2 separate regions of the Homo sapiens genome follow, and region 1 is linked to region 2. The links come from fine-mapping of genetic effects on gene expression. A gene starts in region 2. The other region holds a variant in brackets. All regions are shown on one strand. Distances are between the middles of the regions.

Region 1 (8,000 bases), 29 kb before region 2:
TCAGCCCTTCTTGCAGGTGCAGGTGCTTACTTTTGGTAGTAAAGGAAAGAACTAATTTATAAACCTTAAGAACATCTTCTCACTTTCTATAAACAGGTTATAAAATTGATTAAAATTGCAGTACATCAACTCTACACATATACCTGCTCTGTTACTGGAGACTAATGTAATCCAAATATGTGGAAAAGTCAAATAGTTCTCAGCAAAATTAATTTAGATGGATGGATCAGATAACAACTTGGAACTGAACCTAAAAGGATCATTCCTACTAAAAGGCAGTAAGTACTGAATGTTATATTCCAAAATGTACAAAGAAAACACTGACTTTTAGTCTATTATCAGAATAATTTAAAAATAGTACTTTATTTACACAAATGCTTAAATACATCTCAATGGAAAAAATGGAAAGACCTGTTAAGGCTACTATATGTTCTATTTAAAAGAAAAAAGAAAATGTAACTGGCATAAAAGATCATGTAAATTTTGCATTTAATCCTACTCATGTTAATATACATCCTCAAAGAATGTGCTTCCATCTACACTATTTTATCCTCATGAAGACAAAAGCAAAATCATTGAAGAAACCACTGATGTTCATTGCCACAAGATTTGTCGTCTTTCAAACAAAGATAAAAAATGGTAAGCACAGAAATGCAAAACTTTTCATGAGCTAATGATTTAATCATACTGGCAAAGCAATATTGATTGTATCCTTATATAATACAATTCAAAGTTCAAAAACATTTTTAAAAAAGGTTGGGGGATGGTGGCTCATGCCTGTGCCTGTAATCCCAACACCTGGGAGGCTAAGGCAAGAAGATCACTCGGGCCTAGGAGTTCAACACCAGCCTAGGCAACATAATGAGACCCCTGTATATACAAAAAATAAAAAAATAGCCATGTATGGTGATGCACACCTGTGGTCCCAGGTACTAGGGTGGTTGAGGTGGAAGGATCGCTTGAGCCCAGGAGGTCAAGGCTACAGTAAGCAGCGATCACAGTAAGCGAGGTCAAGGCTACAGTAAGCAGCGATCACAGTAAGCAGTGATCGCACTACTGCACTCCAGCAGCCTGGGTGACAAAGCGAGAACCTGTCTCAAAAAAACAAAAAGGCAGGAGGGGTGGGGGTGGAATAGAGTTGAGGTAAAACAATGAAAACGGAAATTTATCTTTTGAATCACCAACTTCTTTCGCCTCAGTTCCTTTACCAAGTAAAAGAAGGACCATATACAGGCAGAGGGGGAAATGTGGAGATAAGAGACTACCATACTGATGACCAGAGGACTGCTCTCTTTGTGGCTTATGGGGTCCTCTGGAACTTCGGGGTGTTCTGGAACTTTTGGGAGCACAAGACCATGGATAACATCAATTTTCAGGATGTATAGCAATTCTGATCATAGCTATGTCCATAAAGACCCTATTTCACCTGTGGGACTTCTGGATATTCCCTTAATACTCTACCCCCTATTCTTAGTGTATAATCCTTTCTTTTTTCTACCCCAAATACTTTAAACAAATATGAATAATTTTAAGAATTCCAGATATTTTTCAGTTAGCATTAATATTGATTTAGCATGTCACTCCTGTTTTGTAGGAGTGTTTTTTCAAAAGTATTTGTATGGTCTCTAAGACATTTGTGGTAGTCAGCCTCCAGGATGGCCCCCAATGAGCCATGACTCATGAAATTCACATGTGCATTCTTGAGCAATCCTCTCCAACACAGAATACAGTTAATGGCTGACCTGTGTAAACTAACAGGATATTGCATTGCAGGAATAACAGTGTGTGTTTGTTGACACTAGGTTACCAAAGCCACTGTAGCTTCCACCTTGTTTTCTTTCCTTAGATTGTTCACTCTGAGAGAAGCCAACCACCATGCTTTGAGCATGTCAAGAGGCCTGTGGAAAGGCCCTCAATGTAGAAAAGAATTAAGCCTCTTGTCAACAACTAGCACCTTCTTTATAAGTAAACCATCTTAGAAACAGATCACCCAACTCCAGAAAAGCTTTTATAACAGATGACTGGAGGTCCAGCTGTTATCTTGACTGAAATCTTGTGAGACCTTGAGCTAGAACCATCTAGTTATGCTATTCCTATGTTCTGATCCAAAGGAATTATATGAGTTAATAAATTTTTATTGTTGTTTTAAGCCACAAAGTGTTGAGGTAACTTGTTAAGCAATAACTAATTCATACTCTTTCTTCTAAAAACCAAAAAATTAAAAAAGTCAGTGGCTCAAACATCTTCATTAACAACACAATACTGTTTCTCTATGAGGGATTGAGAACTCAAGCCAAGTGAATAACTCAACAACCCTTTCTTAAAAAAAAAAAAAAAAAAAATTAAGGTATGCAATCCCAGAACTCTGGGAGGCCGAGGCAGGCAGACTGCCTGAGCTCAGGAGTTCGCGACCAGCCTGGGCAACACGGTGCAACCCTGTCTGTACTAAAATACAAAAAATTAGCCAGGCATGGCGGTGTATGCCTGTAGTCCCAGCTACTCAGGAGGCTGAGACAGGAGAATCACTTGAACCTGGGAGGTGAAGCTTGCAGTGAGCTGAGATCGTACCACCGCACTCCAGCCGGGGCGACAAAGCGAGACTCCGTCTCAAAAAAAAAAATTAAATTAAGGTATAATTTACATAGGTAAAATGCATATATTATACATTTTCAGTGCATATTTCATTTAGTTATGACACACATACACCATATAGGTAATATCTGATCAAGATACAAAAATGTTCATCCCCTTAAAAAGTTCCCTCAAGGCCATTTTGAATCAGTTCTTGAATTACCCCTTACTCTCTAACAGAATAAAGCACTGTTTTTCTATCACCGAAGATAAATACCGATAATCTTCTATGTCTGGCTTCTTTTGCTCAGCGTAATATTTATAAGGTTAATCCACATGTTGTGGGTACCAGTAGCTCTTTCTTTTTCATTGTTGATTAACAGGTTGAGCATCCCTAATCTGAAAATCTGCAATCCAAAATGTTCCAAAATCCAAAATTTTTTGGGCAACAATATGATACCACAAGTAGAAAATTCCACACATAAGTATTTAGTGTAAACTTTGCTTCATGCACAAAATTATTTAAAGTATTACATAAAATTACACCCAGGCTATGTGTATAAGCTATCATTCAAACATAAATGAAGTTCGTGTTTACACTTAAGTCCCATCTACAACATAGCTCACTATGTAAATGCAAATACTCCAAAATCTGGGAAAAACAAATCCCAAATCCGAAACACTTCTGGTCCCAAACATTATGGATAAAGAATTATCAATCTGTACCATGTTTATGCATTCTCCTGTCCATGGACATTTGAGTTCTACCCAGTTTAGAGCTATAATGAAGAATGTTTCTGGGAATATTCTAGTGCAAATCTTTTTGCATAGGTGGACATGTATTTTTCTGTTCTCTTGGATAAATACCTAGACAGAGCTGGGACTAGAGTGAGGCAAATGAAGTACTACAGTACAAAATTTAAGGAGGCCTTATAACTAGGACTGGAATTGCTGGATCATAAAATAGATGTTTCTATTAATAATTTAGCCTTTTTTATAGCATTGAAATTTTAAATGTAGACTTGCCATAGGTTCTTCTGTCAAGAAATCTACCATTTAAACAAAGAGCAATAGTAGGTTAACATATTAGTCTATAAAAATATAACAAATTATATTTATGAAGACAATTGATCAGCCAGGCGCGGTGGCTCATGCCTGTAATCCCAGCACTTTGAGAGGCTGAGGCGGGCAGATCATGAGGTCAGGAGTTCGAGACCAGCCTGGCCAATATGGTGAAACCCCATCTCTACTAAAAATACAAAAATTACCCAGGCATGGTGGGCATGCCTGTAGTCCCAGCTGCTCAGGAGGCTGAGACAGAAGAATCACTTGAACCCGGGAGGCAGAGGTTGCAGTGAGCCGAGATCATGCCACTGCACTCCAGCCTGGGTGACAGAGCGAGACTCTGTCTCAAAAAAAAAAAAGAAAAAAAAAAAGACGATTGATGTATTATCAGATATGATGCATATTAAATAAAACATTAAGTTAAGAATAACTTGTGCTACAATGATCTCTCAATCAGTAAAACTCCTTGTTTTACAGATAAGGAAAATGATTAAGAGACTTGTCCAAGGATGCCTAACTAGTTAGGGCATATTGCATCACACATATTGCATTGTAAATGCATATTTTCATCATACATATTGCATTGTAAATCTTTACACAAATTTAACCCAGGCTCAACTAAAATATTTTTTCTTACCTAAAGTTGTGGGCATAATTGGTTTTCAATTTTAATGTCAACTAGCTTTTAAAGAAAATTGCTTTTTAGCAGCAGGAGACTGTAAATTTGAACTAGTGAGCAAGGAATAATATATTATTTTATTTATTTATTTATTTAGAGATGGAGTTTCACTCTGTTGCCCAGGCTGGAGTGCAGTGGCGTGATCTCGGCTCACTGCAATCTCCGCCTCCCGGGTTCACGCCATTCTCCTGCCTCAGCCTCCTGGGTAGCTGGGACTACAGGCGCCTGCCACCACGCCTGGTTAATTTTTTGTATTTTTAGTAGAGACAGGGTTTCACCATGTTAGCCAGATGGTCT[C/T]GATCTCCTGACCTCGTGATCCGCCCACCTTGGCCTCCCAAAGTGCTGGGATTACAGGCATGAGCCACCACACCCGGCCGGAATAATATATTCTTTTAAATAAAAATCAAAGATTAGTGACATTACAAAAATTATAACTATAAAAACACATTTACTAAATAAGGTTAAACTATTTCTAAATACATATAAAAGTTATTTTTCTTACCTATAGTCAGATTAGACTTTTCTAAGGAAGGATGTAAGGCTATAGTGTACAACAGGGGTTCCCAACCCCCCCACCATGGACTAGTCCTGGACCCTGTACCTAGGACTGCGCAGCAAGAGGTGTGCAGCAGGCAAGCCAGCAAAGCTCCATCTGTATTTACAGTTGCTCCCCATCGCTACATTACCACCTGAGCTCTCTGCCTCCTGTCAGATCAGCAGCAGCACTGATTCTCATAGGAGCACGAACCCTACTGTGAACCATGCATGCGAGTGATCAGGGTTGCGGGCTCCTTATAAGAATCTAACGCCTGATCATCTGAGGTGGAGCTGAGGCAGTGATGCTAGCGCTGGGGAGTGGCTGCATATACAGATTAACATTAATAGAGAGGTTTGACTGCACAGAGACCATAATAAATCAATTACTTGCAGACTCATCAAAACCCTATCAGTGAGAGGCAAGTGACAATTAAGCTGTATCTGGTGGTAGGCTTTTGAGTGGCAAGTGAGTTGATGTACTTCAAGTGTACAGCTGCATCTGGTGGCAGGCTTTAAGTCAAAATGCAACATTTATTTTAGTCTGCACGTGGCCTGCCTATTATTTTATTTACCTCTTCCATCTGCACCTCCTTCCCACACTGCACACTTGTCTTGGTCACAGTTTTGATAAGCCTACAAGCTAACCCCTAGTCACAATGAGTAAAAACCAAACATCACTGGAGACCTTCTTTAAAAAGGGGGAAAGACCCCATGATGAGACAGCAGAAGACTCTAAGACTGCCAACAAAAAGAAAGCTTCATTTAAAAGAAAATACCAACAGTCCTACTTAAATTATAGGTTCATTGTAACAGATGATTCACATTCTCCAAGTATGCTTTGTATGCTATGTGGCGACCAGCTATCCAATGAAGCCATAAAACCTTCAAAACTGCTTTGTCACATGGAGACCAAGCAGACTGATTAAAAGACAAGTCTTCGCAGTTTTTCAAAAGAAAAAAACATGAACACGAAGAACTGAAGTAATTACTGAAAGCCACCACTTCATCAAACGTGTTGACACTAAGAGCATCATTCTTAGCGACTAACTACATAGCTAAAGCTAAGAAGCCCTTTACTATCGGTGAAGATTTGATCCTGCCTGCTGCTAAAGACATCTGTCATGAAATTTTAGGAGAGGATGCCGATCAAAAGGTAGCACGTGTTCCTCTTTCGACTAGCACCATAACTAGACAAACTGATGAAATAACAGAGGATATTGAGGCACAATTGCTAGAATCAATGAGTCACCATGGTACACAATTCAGACTGATGAGTTGACCGATGTTGACAACAATGCAACAATGCTTGCTTTTGTGCAATATATTTTTCAGGAGGATATGCATGAGGATATTTATGTGCACTTTTGTTGCTAATAAACACCAAAGCTGCAGAACTATTCAAGTCTTTGAATGATTAAATATCAGAGAAACTGAATTGGTCACTTTACATCGGTATATGCAGACACAGCGGCCACCATGACTGGACGGCTTTCTGGTTTCACTTCTCAGGTCAAAAAGGTTGCTTCTAAATGTGAGTCTATGCACTGTGCCATCCATACAGAAATGCCGGCTACCTGAAAAATGTCACCTGAACTTAACAACGTTTTGCAGGATATGATTAAAATTATCAACCTCATTAAAGTATATGCCCTTGGCTGGGCGCGGTGGCTGACACTTGTAATCCCAGCACTTTGGGAGGCTGAGGTGCGTGGATCATGAGGTCAGGAGATCGAGATCATCCTGGCTAACACGGTGAAACCCTGTCTCTATTAAAAATAAAAAAATTAGCAAGGCATGGTGGTGGGCGCCTGTAGTCCCAGCTACTCAAAAGGCTGAGGCAGGAGAATGGCATGAACCCGGGAGGAGGAGCTTGCAGTGAGCCAAGATCACGCCACTGCACTCCAGCCTGGGCGACAGAGCAAGACTCCATCTCAAAAAAAAAAAAAAAAGTACATGCCCTTAACTCATATCTGTTCATGCAGCTCTGTGAGGAGATGGACACAGAGCATACACGTCTTCTCTTAAACACAGAAGTAGGTGGCTTTCTAAAGGTGGATCACTGGCCAGAGTTTTGAGTTATGAGAGCTGTTCCAGAGATTTCTTTTAGAAAAATAGTCACCACTGGCAGCACATTTCAGTGACACAGAATAGGTCACAAAGCTTGCTTCCTTATGTGACATATTCAACCTGCTCAACAAACTCAATCTGTCACTTCAGGAGAGAACAACTCTGTTCAAGTTCGCAGATAAAGTGGCTGCATTCAAAGCCAAACTGGAATTATGGGGGTGGCAAGTGAACACTGGGATTTCTGACATGTTTCAAACATTAGCAGAGATTTTGAAAGAGGCTGAGCCAGGGCCTTCTTTCTCCCAACTGGTGCAGATCACCTATCTCAGCTTTCAAAAGAGTTTAAGCATTACTTCCCAACCACAAAGGACCCCTGAATGGGAAGGAATAGATCCGCAACCCATTTGTGAATAAACCAGGTGAATTGACTTCATCTGTGCTAGAAGAGGATCAACTAGACAATATCAAATCTCCATACATTCTAGATTAAAGTCAAGACAGAATATCCCAAGATTGGCACAAAATCACTCCTTTTCAGCCTGCTTCCATTTCCAACATCCTATCTTTGTGAAGCAGGGTTTTCTGCAGTGACAGCAACCAAAACGAGATTACAGAGCAGAATGAACATAAGCAACAGACTTTGGGTGTCACTGTCTCCCATCATCCCCACATAGAACCTTCTAGTTGCAGGAAAGCAAGCTCAGGGATCCCACTGACTCTACATTATGGTGAGTTATATAATTACTTCATTATATATTACAATATAATAAAAATAGAAATAAAGTACACAGTAAATGTAATGCGCTTGTATCATCCCAAAATCATCCCTCCACCCTCCATCCATGGAAAACCTGTCTTCCACAAAACTAGTCCCTGGTGCCAAAAAGTTTGGGGACTGCTGGTATATACATGATATCTGCATTTTTCATTCTAGAGGCTACCCAAAACCAAATCATTTAAAGGAGCAATAATAGCACTTTTATTCAATTTATTTGTTTTGCTTCTATCAAATTACTACCATTTATTAAGATAAATGCTTTTCTTCCCTTGAAAAAGATTTTTCATCTAGAATATTGTGGTA
Region 2 (12,856 bases):
AGATATTCATATAAAAAAATAATAACCTCAACTTCTACTGATACATCCACAAAAATCTAAGATGGAACATAGGCTTAAGCGTAAAAGGTAAAACTGTTAGTCTTCTAATTGAAAACATAAGCGAATATCTTTACAACCTTAGGCTAGGCAAAGATTTCTTAGACACAATAGAACAAAGCACTAGCCACAAAAGACAATTTTGACAAAGTAGACTTCATCAAAATTAAAAACATCTGCATATCCAAAGGCACCCCTGAGAAAATAAAAATTCGAGTTAAAGGGAAATATTATTTACATCTGTCTGTATATACATATGACATTATGTATATATATGACCTTTTAAAATCAAACATATGTGTGTCTGTATATAATTGACCTGTATTCGGAGTCTATAAAGAAATACCACAATTCAATAATAAAACAAGCCAATACATAAATAGGTAAAAGTCACAAACATATTTTCACACAAGGCATGAAAATAATAAGCACATGAAAAAGTTCTTAATATCATTAATTGGGGGAAATGCAAATGAAAATCACAATGACAAACCTTTAACTTCTACAATGGCTAAAATTTAAATGACTGGCAGTAACAAGTGTTGAGAATGTGGAAGTGGAGCTTTGCTATATTGCTAGTGGGAGCGTAAAATGGCAAAAGAATTTTGGAAAATATTTGGAAAACTTTTCTAAAGTTAAAAATATCCCTAACTTATGACTCAGAAATTCCACTCTTTAACCAAGAAAAATGAAAACATTTGTCCATAAAAAAAAACACTGTATGAGTATGTTCATAGGAACTGTACTCTTAATAGCTAAAAACCAGAAGCAATGCAAATGTCCCATAAGTGAATCAATTAACATATTTGTACCATGAAATTCTATTTAACAAAAATGGAACAAACATGTCAAAACATGGATATACTCAAAAACATAAAGTTTATGAAAGAAGCAGACACAAAAGAGTTCATACTGTATGACTCCATTTAAATGTAATTCCAGAACTATAGTTCTAAACTATAGTATTAATAAAAAAATCAGAAGATAGTACTGTAGATGGGGGAGAGGGGTTGAATAAGCAGAGAAACAGAGGAACTTTCTGTAGTGGTAGAAATATTCTCTATCTCGATTGTGGTGGTAGTGGTTTTATGGATGAGTACATGCATCAAAACTCATTAAATTGGCCACTTAAAATCAATGTGTTTTAATATGTATCAAATTTTATCTCACACAAAATAAAACAGCTTATGAGAAGATAAACACTGCTATACATTTTCAAAGCATCAAACGTAACTAGAAAATTGTAAACATTTCAGACAGAAAAAACTGATTCTGCTATCAACAAGTTAAAGTGAGACTGGCATTCTCATCAGCAATAATGAAAGTCAGAAGAGAGCCTGGTGCAGTGGCTTGTGCCTGTGATCCCAGATACTTGAGAGGCTGAGGTGGGAGGATCACGTGAGGTCAGGAGTTTCAGACCAGACTGAGCAACACAGTGAGACTCCAGCTCAAAAAAAAGGAAAAAAAAAAAGTTAGAAGACATGGAAGGATTGAGAGTTGAAGGAAAATACTTTTGATTCTATATACAGCCAAATTATCAGTCATAAGAGCAAATTATAATTTACAGCTATACGAACATTAAAAAATAAAATTACCTTTCACTTGCCTTTTGTGAGCAAGTTTCCTTAGGATATATTCCAGGGAAATAGGGGGAAGCCCAATAACAGAAGATGAGGGGCTAAGAAACAATGTTATTTACCCAAGAATGAATATAAGCCCAGGATAGGAGCAATACAAAAGGACTAGAATGCAATCTGTTCAAATTAAACAGAAAGCCATTGGGCTTTAAGGGGAAAATCTTCAAACAGAGGAATGGAAGCTTGCTTCTATGTGCATCATACAAAGAATGAGAAGATTCAGTGAAGAAAGCACATCCACCTACCTATTCCCCAGGAGAAAGCAGAAAGGCAATTAAGAAAGTGGGGACGGTTAAAAACTATGTATTACATACTCCAAAATATAAAGCATGCTCAACTACAGCATATTTTGCCCTTGGCAGGAAAGAAATAAAAACCCATTTGACCTTGATATCATAAATAATCTCCTTAGTATGGCACAGGGATCATGAAGTTAAAACTCTGGGGAAAAAAACATATCAGAGCATACAGCTTGGACTTGCTCTAAGTAACAACTATAAAGCCATAATACTGTAAACATTTTATTTTTTTTATTGGTTTTTGGCACGTGAATAAAGCGCAAATGTTATAGTTAAGAAATATATTACTAACTTTGACAATGTACAAGTAAATGTCCAGCTAAGAGAAAGTGGGCATAAATGTAGTTTCTGAAGTGATAAAGAAAAAGGTAGAATCACTACTTTTCTCGTTTTACCAAACAAGGAGTCAAATATATTTTCAAAAGTTGATGTGAAAAAAGTAGTTTACGTATATTATTTTGAATTATAAAGTAACCAATACAAAAACTAAAAATTATGATTATGACTCTTCCAAAATTCAGAGGAGATTGTGAATGGTGTGGGCTATTTCTAGAAGTCAACGGAAAAAGAATTAGCAGTTCAACTTAGGGCTATCTCAAGAAGTCAACAAAAAGAATTAACAGTTTAACTTATTATTTAACCTACAGACCTAAAATTAGAAAAGGTTAAAAGTGGTTATCTTTGAAGAACAGTACTGAGAGTAGGACAGGTGAGACAGTTGCACTTTATTATTCAATCCTACTACGCTATACTACTTGATTTTTTTTTTTTTTTTTTTTTTTTTTGAGACAGAGTCTCACTCTGTCATCAAGGCTGGAGTGCAGTGGCATGATCTCGGCTCACTGCATCCTTCCACCTCCCGGGTTCAAGCGATTCTGTGCCTCAGCCTCCAGAGTGGCTGGGATTACAGGCGCCCGCCACCACGCCCGGCTAATTTTTGTATTTTTAGTAGAGACGGGGTTTCACCATCCTGGCCAGGCTGGTCTTGAACTCCTGACCTCAGGTGATCCACCCGCCTCGACCTCCCAAAGTGCTAGGACTACAGGCGTGAGCCACCGCGCCCGACCATTTTATTTTCAATCAGATGTCTTTATCATCACATAGCTGAAAATAAAATAACCAAATAAAACACAATGATCGAAAAAGATAAAACACTAATTAGCATAATCAGTGTTCTTTTTCCACTACCTCTTAAATGGTTGTACATAAAAAGGCTCACACACAAAAATACACACACATACATTCACTTACACCTCGTGAGTGGAAGAAAACTACCGGGGGAAAAAAAACGTAGAGATGAGAGATTAGATGAGGGAAACAGCAGTGCAAGCAGTTGGGCTTGAAAATTCATTCATTCAACAAATATTTTGAAGCCCCTATTTTAAGTCAGTTGTTTTTCCAGCTGGTGGGCAAAGGATAATGAACAAGTCAGACTCTGTGCCCTCAAAGAACTTAGAGTTTTAAACGACTCGAATGGGGAAAGAAAGTAAAAAATAGGGCAAAAGACGCCGATTTTATCATGAATAAAATTTCACATTTCTTCAACAGGAAAATGATACTAATTCATTTATTTTATATATACATTCTCTCAAGAGGTTATTTTTGTCTCAAATAGATAGAAACCAGGACAGGGATCCTTGAAAAGCAGCCACTGACAATCCTCAAGTAACTTCCTTCCTCTGCTTCACTTTCTCCTACTGCTCAAGGGGGTGTTACACTTTGACGACTGACTAAACCTCGAGGGCCAGAAACAAACCAAAGCAAAATTCTGCCTCCAAGGTGAGTAATGGAGGGGCGGATTCTAGATTCTCTAACCTCCTTTAGCCTTCCTTTGAGGCAGTGACAGAGCGATTACTAAGCCTACGGTTCCCAAACGACTCAGGTGAACCTGATTTACAGGAAAGGCGGGCTGTAGCTAGGGATGGAGACAGTACCTATCAGCAAGCGGCTCCACAGCTCGGTTCTCTATCTATTCTGAAGACATGCGGGGCCACTCACTGCTCCTGATAGTCCTCTACCTCCCACAGACCCCACCCACTACGACACGGAAAACTGGATTACCCAAATACCTGCCTCTGAGTCTGGGGACGCAGGCAAGCACAAAGACAAGGGGGATGGAGCTTCTACACAGGGCCCCAGCGCTGTCGCTGTGGCTGCTGCTGCCGCTACGGCTTAGTGCACCAGACGCTGCATTTCAGGTGCTCCTACAAAAGAGGCCACTCCTGGAACGCCGGGAGCTCAGACGCTGCCCTTTGCTCGCGAGCCAAGTCAGCCAAGGTTAACCTTCGCGGAACCCGGCGAGGAGCGCAAGCCTGGCCTTCCCCAAACACAGATCCGAGCTTTTCACCCTCTACCCTCCCCTCAGCCTGGCCTTTTCTTCCGCCCTCACAGCCACCGCGACCCAACGCTGAGGAAAGACCCCGACTTGTGGTGTCCTTCCCCTTGCCCAAACTGGCCACGAAAGGACATATAGCGAGAGAGAAAGAGGTGCGGGGGGACGGGGGGGGTCGATTGAAAATACTGGGTGAGGGAATGGAAGACGAGGAGCGTGGTATGGCAGGTTAATGGGACTGAGCACAGGAAGAGGAAGAAAGAATTGAGGGTTGAATCTGTAGAACACTCAGGCTTTCAGCAAGGACACCTCATTGGGTCCTTTCTCACTGCTATAGTACGCGGGTGGCTGGACCTACATGCTTCCTGCTGTGGCTGTCTCGGAACCCGTGGTCCTCCGCTTCATGTGAGTGACGTCGTGGCGGGTCACTCACTCGGGGATCGCCGATTGCGATCGTAGGGGTCTTCCTTCTCTAACTTGCCTCCAGGAGAGAGGACCTGGCCTGCGCTGCTAATGGGTAGTCCGTTCGCAGCAGGACCAGCCCTGGCCTAAGGAAACAGGAAAGAGTTTGAGACTTCCTTCTAAAGGAGCCACGTTTGAGAAATGGGATGCAGGCCTAAGTTAAGAATGCTACAGAAAAATATCGATCCCTAAGCGTATTTACTGTTATGTGAATGTGTGTGTCAAAGGACTTAGGTGCTTTGGGGGAGAGGAGGGTGAAGACAGGAATTTATTCATTGAGCGAATAGTTATTAAGCGCCCACTCTATTCCAGACACCGTTCTAGGCATTAGGTGAACAGCAGTGAACAAAACAGACGGAAATCTGTGTCTACTTGTAGCTCACATTTTAGAGAGGAAGGCACATACTAAGCAAAGTAATTAGAAACATACTGTATTTTAGGTCGTGATAGTCCTGAAGAGAAACGTAAAGCAGGGAAGAAGGGTATAAAGTGACACAGGAAGGTCTTGCTGAAAAGATGACTTTTAAGTAAAGGGCTGACAGAAGTGGGAGATTTAACCACGCGAATATCTTGGGAAAGTGCAGTCAGACAGAGGGACCAGCCATTGCAGAGGTCATGAAGCAGAAACGTGCTAGAATAGCAAGGAGGCCTGTAGGGCAGAGTTGAGTGAAGGGTTTAGTCCTTCACTGGAGATTAAATCAAGGCGAGCAGGTCATGAAGATCTTGAGGACATCTAACTTTTATTCTAAATGAAATAGGACTTTGGAGCGTTTTGAGCAGTAGAGTGATGGGCTCTGACTTCCTTTTAAGAGGGTCACTCTTTAAGGAAAATACACAGAGGAGGACGTGGTAGGAGAAAGGAGACCAATAAGAAGAGTTTTGCAATAATCCAGAGGAAGCATAATGGTGGTTTGACTATGGGTGGTAAGAAATGGCCAGTTATATTCTTGATGCACTTAATTTGGATATGTAAGAGTATTATAGATGACAGGGTTAATTTTATTTAATTAGGCTTTGGAGGACACTTGAAAAATGAATTCCAGTGTGAGTTTCAGAGTGGCAAACACAAGTTAAAATCATGGCTTTGCTATGTGGTACTTGAAGGGATTCAGATAAGTCATGTAATTTTCCTGGATCTGTCTATAAAATGGAAATCACATCTGTCAAGATTGCAAAGGTTAGGGTATATTATAGGTATTTAATGACAAGGTATGTAATGGGTCTAGTCTGCAAATCTTAACCAGGTAAAAGATGGCCTTATTGTGAGGTAAGAGGGTCATGGGAGGCCAAGGCATACTCCTTTTTAAATTTTATGGACTCTGTACTGGGGAGGAAAGTTTTTGTGTTAATGACGATGGTATTTAGAAATGCATGGACTGGCCTCTCATAGCTGTCCACCCTATAGTCATTCCTTATAGCCATCCTTTAAACCCTCCAGGACCCCCTATGTCCTCATCAGTAAAGGGAAAGCAGGCTGTCTGGTAAGGGAAATAGGAACTTCCATAAAAAAGCAATTTTAGATATTCTTTTTATAGGTTTTGGCAAAGGTTGATAAAAGACCTAGGGAATTACTGCTGGTTGCTGCGCTTACATATTTTGAGTGTCTTCAGATGCATTGTTCTCAGTGTATTTAATTTTCTTCTTTAAATTCTGACTTTTGACACATATGATTTAAATCCTAGCAGGAATTTTCACCTAGTGCTAAAAGGTACCACATTGCTTTACACTATAATAAGGACGGTCTTTCAGTGTGGGGTATTTTATGTATACTATAATATTTTTACATATCCAGTAATTAGATTGTGTAGCAAATCAGGGAAAGAAGTTGGAAGGCAAGAATAGGAATGAAGGGAGGAGAAGAAAGGAAGAAAATGATTAAAATTACTATATTCCATCAATTCTGAGATACACATTTTTCTCTTACTTAACATCTCTGAAATAGGGATGTATTTTTAAGTTGTTGACATCTTTAAATCACTGTAGATGAATTGGCAGTTGTGAGATATTTGTCATTGCCCACACTTACACCCACTTAGTCATAACTTAATCTTGTCATTATTTCAGTTGAGTTATATATGCACTATTGGCATATAGTTGTTGAGTGTAATTTCCCTTTTAAAGATCATTTAGAAGATTATGATTAGCATTAGAATGAAAAGTTACTGTGTATGTGGGGAAACAAAGGGTGATACAAGATAAAAATCCAGGGTTAAATTTAAAAGAAGTCTGTCAATAAATAATATAGGATGTGTCTAAGTAATAAGAAAGCATTGGGTCAGTTGATTCAATAGTGTTTTTTTTCATAATGTACATAAAATAATAGAGCTTCTTGGGATTGAAGCCATTTTACAATTGATGGCATTTTAGATTTCTTGTATAGTATTTAAAGCTTCCAACAAAAATGTAAATTTTTACCTACTGTAATTCTGAAATAGGGAAATTAGAGGTTTTGAGTAGAGACACTTTCAAATTTGTGTAGCGTTCCTATATAGCATAAGAATTCTAAAATTAAAAGTCTGCCTGTAAAACTTTGATTTCAAAGTAGTAACTTACTTATGTTTGATTCCCAATGTTGTCATCGTGGGGCAGAGATTTTGCTTTTTCAAAAAGATTGCAGGCAATTTAGATGGTGTGGGTGGGGAGGACTACTGAGGAAATTGCTCAGTAAACAAAAATGATAGTGAAGATCTCAGAATCTCAAAAATCATCTTTTGTGTGTGTATTTTAATGATTAAGATGTACTATAAATTCATGTACAGTATTTGGGATTCTGCATTAGAGGCATCGTATGATTAATGGCTTTTTAGGTTTGATGAAGTATGATAATTAACATTGAGAAGGACAAAATTAATGTGAAGGGACAGAATGATTTAGATAATATGTTTCAAAAGCTTTTGTCCTAAAAAATGCATTATTACCATTTTAATTTAGTAAAGGAAAAAGAAAAGGTCTTGATCCTCACCAAACACAATTAACATACTTGGTCTACAGTTTTCTGTGCTTCTCTCTTCATAAATGTTTTATATTTTCAATTACTGTGCATGTCATTCTTATATCTATTTTAATCTCACAGTCTTAATTTTTTTACATTTTAGTCCAGAGACTTAAACTAGCATTTCCTAAACTGTTTTAGAGAATACTAGTTCAAATAAATGTTAATAGCTGTTCCTGTGTTAGGATTCTGTCATTAAATATATTGGAAAATGCTTCGTAATTATATCCTTTAGAGAAATTATAGCTAGAGCATTAAAAGAGCTAACTGCAGCATCAGACAGACCTGAGTTTCAATCCTCGTTTACTATGTATTACATGAGGCAAATTAATTTTAATTCAAGTTTTCTTCTCTGTATAATGGAGATTATTACAGTATTCGAAATTGACTTGTGTAAAGCATTTAGCCAGCCATAGCGCATGTTCTACAAATATATGTAGTTGTTATTATCATCTATGAGAAACTTTATACATATTAGAAACTCTGAGGATTTAAAATTTTGAAGGTTGACTTATACTCAATGTAAAATTGAAAAATCACAGGGGAGTAATTAGCATAGAGATTAATGAAATGAGCACTGGGTTGAATGGTAAAAGATTTGTTTGAGCTTTAAGCAGTATTGTTGTTAAACTATCACTGTGCCCTAAGCGTAACATTATTTTAAAAATGTCTTCAACTGTGTTTCCCCCATTTGTCTGAAAGCTTAGTTAGTTCAAAGAACATGTTTATTTTTGTTCTCTACTATAAACCCAGCACATGACACAAAATCAGGGAGTGTAAAGTTGGGGTCATGAACTTATTTTAGGAGCCTGGTAGGTAATATAAATGGCAGACAACAGGGAGTAGTAAAGTGTCTGTCTGTCTTACTTAAAGACATTCACATCAGTTATTTCCAACACTGTTAGCCCTGGAAAAGAAAGCTATCCCTGAACTTTGTCAGGCTAGTTTGTGATCCCTAGAAAAGATTAGTGATTAAGACCAAACCCTGAAGAACAGCATCATTAATGGGACAGATTAAAAAAAAAAGGAGCCCTGAAAGGAGGTGACAAGGAAGTAGGAGGTGAAATCAGGTACAAGTAATTTTTTAAATTAAGAAAAGTATAGCCCTCTCCCTCTCCCTCTCCCTCTCCGCACCGTCTCCCTCTGATGCCGAGCCGAGGCTGGACTGTACTGCCACCATCTTGACTCACTGCAACCTCCCTGCCTGATTCTCCTGCCTCAGTCTGCCGAGTTCCTGGGATTGCAGGTGCGCGCCGCCACTCCTGACTGGTTTTTGTATTTTTTGGTGGAGACGGGGTTTCACCGTGTTGGCCGGGCTGGTCTCCAGCTCCTGACCGCGAGTGATCTGCCAGCCTCGGCGTCCTGAGGTGCCGGGATTGCAGACGGAGTCTCGCTCACTCAGTGCTCAATGTTGCCCATGCTGGAGTGCAGTGGCGTGATCTTGGCTCGCTACAACCTCCACCTCCCAGCCGCCTGCCTTGGCCTCCCAAAGTGCCGAGATTGCAGCCTCTGCCCGGCCGCCACCCCGTCTAGGAAGTGAGGAGCGTCTTTGCCTGGCCGCCCATCGTCGGGGATGTGAGGAGCCCCTCTGCCCGGCCGCCCAGTCTGGGAAGTGAGGAGCACCTCTTCCCGGCCGTCATCCTGTCTAGGAAGTGAGGAGCGTCTCTGCCCAGCCGCCCATCATCTGGGATGTGGGGAGCATCTCTGCCCCGTCGCCCCGTCTGAGATGTGAAGAGCGCCTCTGCCCGGCCGCGACCCTGTCTGGGAACTGAGGAGTGTCTCTGCCCCGCCGCCACCCCGTCTGGGAGGTGAGGAGCGTCTCTGACCGGCTGCCCGGTCTGAGAAGTGAGGAGCCCCTCCGCCCGGCAGCCGCCCCGTCTGGGAAGTGAGGAGCGTTTCCGCTTTCCGCCCGGCAGCGGCCCCGTCCGGGAGGTGGGGGGCAGCCCCCGCCCGGCCGGCGCCCCGTCTGGGAGGTGGAGGGCGCCTCTGCCCGGCCGCCCCATCTGGGAAGTGAGGAGCCCCTCTGCCCGGCCGCCACCCCGTCTGGGAGGTGTACCCAACAGCTCATTGAGAACGGGCCATGATGACGATGGCAGTTTTGTCGAATAGAAAAGGGGGAAATGTGGGGAAAAGAAAGAGAGATCAGATTGTTACTGTGTCTGTGTGGAAAGAAGTAGACATAGGAGACTCCATTTTGTTCTGTACTAAGAAAAATTCTTCTGCCTTGGGATGCTGTTAATCTATAACCTTACCCCCAACCCCGTGCTCTCTGAAACATGTGCTGTGTCCACTAAGGGTTAAATGGCCCCTGCTCTCTGAAACATGTGCTGTGTCCGCTAAGGGTTAAATGGCCCGTGCTCTCTGAAACGTGCTGTGTCCACTAAGGGTTAAATGGATTAAGGGCGGTGCAAGATGTGCTTTGTTAAACAGATGCTTGAAGGCAGCATGCTCCTTAAGAGTTATCACCACTCCCTAATCTCAAGTACCCAGGGACAAACACTGCAGAAGGCGGCAGGGCCCTCTGCCTAGGAAAACCAGAGACCTTTGTTCATATGTTTATCTGCTGACCTTCCCTCCACTATTGTCCTATGACCCTCCCAAATCCCCCTCTCCAAGAAACACCCAAGAATGATCAATAAATACTAAAAAAAATTAAAAAAAAAAAGTATAGAAAATTTAGATAACTTTACCAAGGTCACACAGTCTAAGTATATATAAGCAAGCCCAAGGGTATATATACCCATGTTCCTCTGCCAGTGCTAGTGATCATTATCTGCATGTTACTAGAAAACATTAACATAAACTTATGCATCCAACCTATATTTTTAAAAAATTTAAATGATAATTAATCAACAAGTATTAGAAAACCTGTTTCCAGAGCTTCTGTTCTAAAGACAGCAAATGGCTTTTAGCACTTGAGCACAGTTCTGTTAACACACAGACGTAACTAGAAGTGAAATATTTTTAGATTTCACAAGATGAGACTTTTTAACATTGGCATCATGAATAATATTTCCAGATACCCAGTTATCTAGGACTGGAGAAGAAGTAGAGTCTGGGCGCCAGTGCAATGGCTCACACCTGTAATCCCAGCACCTTGGGAAGCCGAGGTGGGCAGATCAGTTGAGGGAGGTCAGGATTTCGAGACCAGCCTGGCCAACATGGTGAAACCCCATCTCTACTAAAAATTCAAAAATTAGTCAGGTGGCAGGCACCTGTAATCCCGGCTATTTGGGAGGCTAAGGCAGGAGAATCGCTTGAACCCAGGAGACGGAGGTTGCAGTGAGCCAAGATCGTGCCACTGCACCCCAGCCTGGGTGAAAAAGGAAGACTCTGTCTCAAAAAAAAAAAAAAAAAGTTTTATCACTTCTTTTTATCACATTGTTTCCTTTTAGTAGTTGCATATGTGTATTTAGTGTTTAGTTCATTTGTATTTCTGTATTTTGAAACATGACATTCTCTTTCCTAAACTTATGCTTGTTCTTCAATATGTATTATAAAAGTCATATTTTATGTAACTAACTATTCCACTTATATTTTGCAAATAGTTAACAGATTTATCAACTCAGTAAAATTGTATTTTTTTCTCTTAGGCTAGGATTTATTATCTCTATTTTCAAAATTACTGTTATTCTTAGAAGATTTTTTATATGTTTCTGTATGAGTCAGAACATGAGTTTCTTTTTTTGATTTTTCAGCAACTTGGTGGGTATTTATTTTTGAAGGACTGTCTAGAACTGTTGGCTTATTTATGAGCATTATTCTTTATGGACTATTATTTTAACAGTTTAGAAAAATACAGACCAAAAGAGCACAAAAATTCAAATGAAGATACCACCTTTAAACTCTGCTATTTTTACCAAAATGAACACAGAATACCATGTTGTTACTTAAACGTTTGCAAAGCCAGAATTGTAGAGAAAATATCTTAATAGAAATGGATATATGAAGAAAGTTAAAGTAAAAAAAAAAAAAAAACTATGCTCTTCTGAATTTTAGTATCCTGAGTACAGCATTTCTTTAGTTTTTGATGTCTTTTTATTTTAGTCTAACATAAGTAATGATGAAATATACTCAATAGGTAAAATGTAGCTATCACAAACAATAATGAGTATCTGATTAGGCAGAATTGGCAAGTTTTACATCTCTAGCAAAGACATATTTGATGAATAATACTAAAATGAATGAATTGGTGCATTTTAGAAAAATACATTTTGAAAAGATATGGCTCAAATCATCTTATTCAAATTTCAAAATTAAGAGAAAAACTAGAAAACTAGTATCAGCTAATATGAAACAAGTAGATTTAAGTATAGACTGATGCTCAAAAATGAGCCAACAGATCTAGACAGTCACCTCAAAAATAAATACCAGCCAGTGTATTGTGGCTTTTCAGAATATTTTTTATATAGGATTGGTATTATATAATAATTTGAAATTTTCAAACAATCTGTTACGTGTCTATTATCTAGTTTTTATTCAAAATTTCACCATTAATATTGAGTACTGCTTCATTTATTTAAAGTTAGAATTATTTCAGCAATACTTGTATCATTGTTATACCTTGAATTATAAATTCTTGTTAAATCAGGTAGAAAAGAACAGTTCATAGTATTACTAATGATTAACCTCTCCATTGTCAGTGTGATTATTTTTCTTAGTATGTGGCAGTTTAAATTTTAACATGGTGAATTAATCTCAGAATGTTTGCTTACATACATTTTTCTGTACCTTGATAGTATTTTTTTAAATTTCTCTGAATTTATTATAAAACTAAAATTCTAATTTTTAAAATAAAGACAACGGTATATACTGACATTATATCTGAACAAGCATATGATTAATATTTTCTTAATTGTTGATTTTTTCTTTTAATATTTATCTTTCCTAATTGACGTTTTCTTCTTGAAAATTGTACCTAAGTGAATACACAGTAGAAGGATCCAGTATACAGAAATATAAAAGGAATGAAATCAGCAACTCTTTACTTTGGAACACAGATGTAATACTCATTAGCATAGTTACGGTTATTGTTATTCTTATCTCTTAGTGTACCTGAAGCTTTCTTTGAAAGCTT

Evidence for each region. PIP is the estimated chance that this variant, and not a neighbour inherited with it, causes the effect. A credible set is the group of variants that fine-mapping cannot tell apart.
Region 1: its variant is the best candidate, but not a certain one, in a credible set for the expression of TBCK in whole blood (TOPMed, PIP 0.54).

Annotation. Positions count from the first base shown.
Region 1 is chr4:106,285,785-106,293,784 of GRCh38, forward strand. All of the region lies in intron 3 of TBCK (TBC1 domain containing kinase), which reads right to left. It overlaps LOC124900750 (a long non-coding RNA gene), which reads left to right. Exons shown (of 3, transcript XR_007058217.1): 2 at 97-278. Among named protein-coding and RNA genes, the nearest start is that of TBCK, 26 kb to the right of the region's middle. The variant C/T (reference allele first, on the strand shown) is at 4,613.
Region 2 is chr4:106,311,865-106,324,720 of GRCh38, forward strand. It overlaps TBCK (TBC1 domain containing kinase), which reads right to left and starts at 4,345. Exons shown (of 26, transcript NM_001163435.3): 1 at 4,067-4,345. AIMP1 (aminoacyl tRNA synthetase complex interacting multifunctional protein 1) reads left to right here and starts at 4,686. Exons shown (of 7, transcript NM_001142416.2): 1 at 4,686-4,730. RefSeq lists enhancers at 3,925-4,014, 4,095-4,154, 4,645-4,894.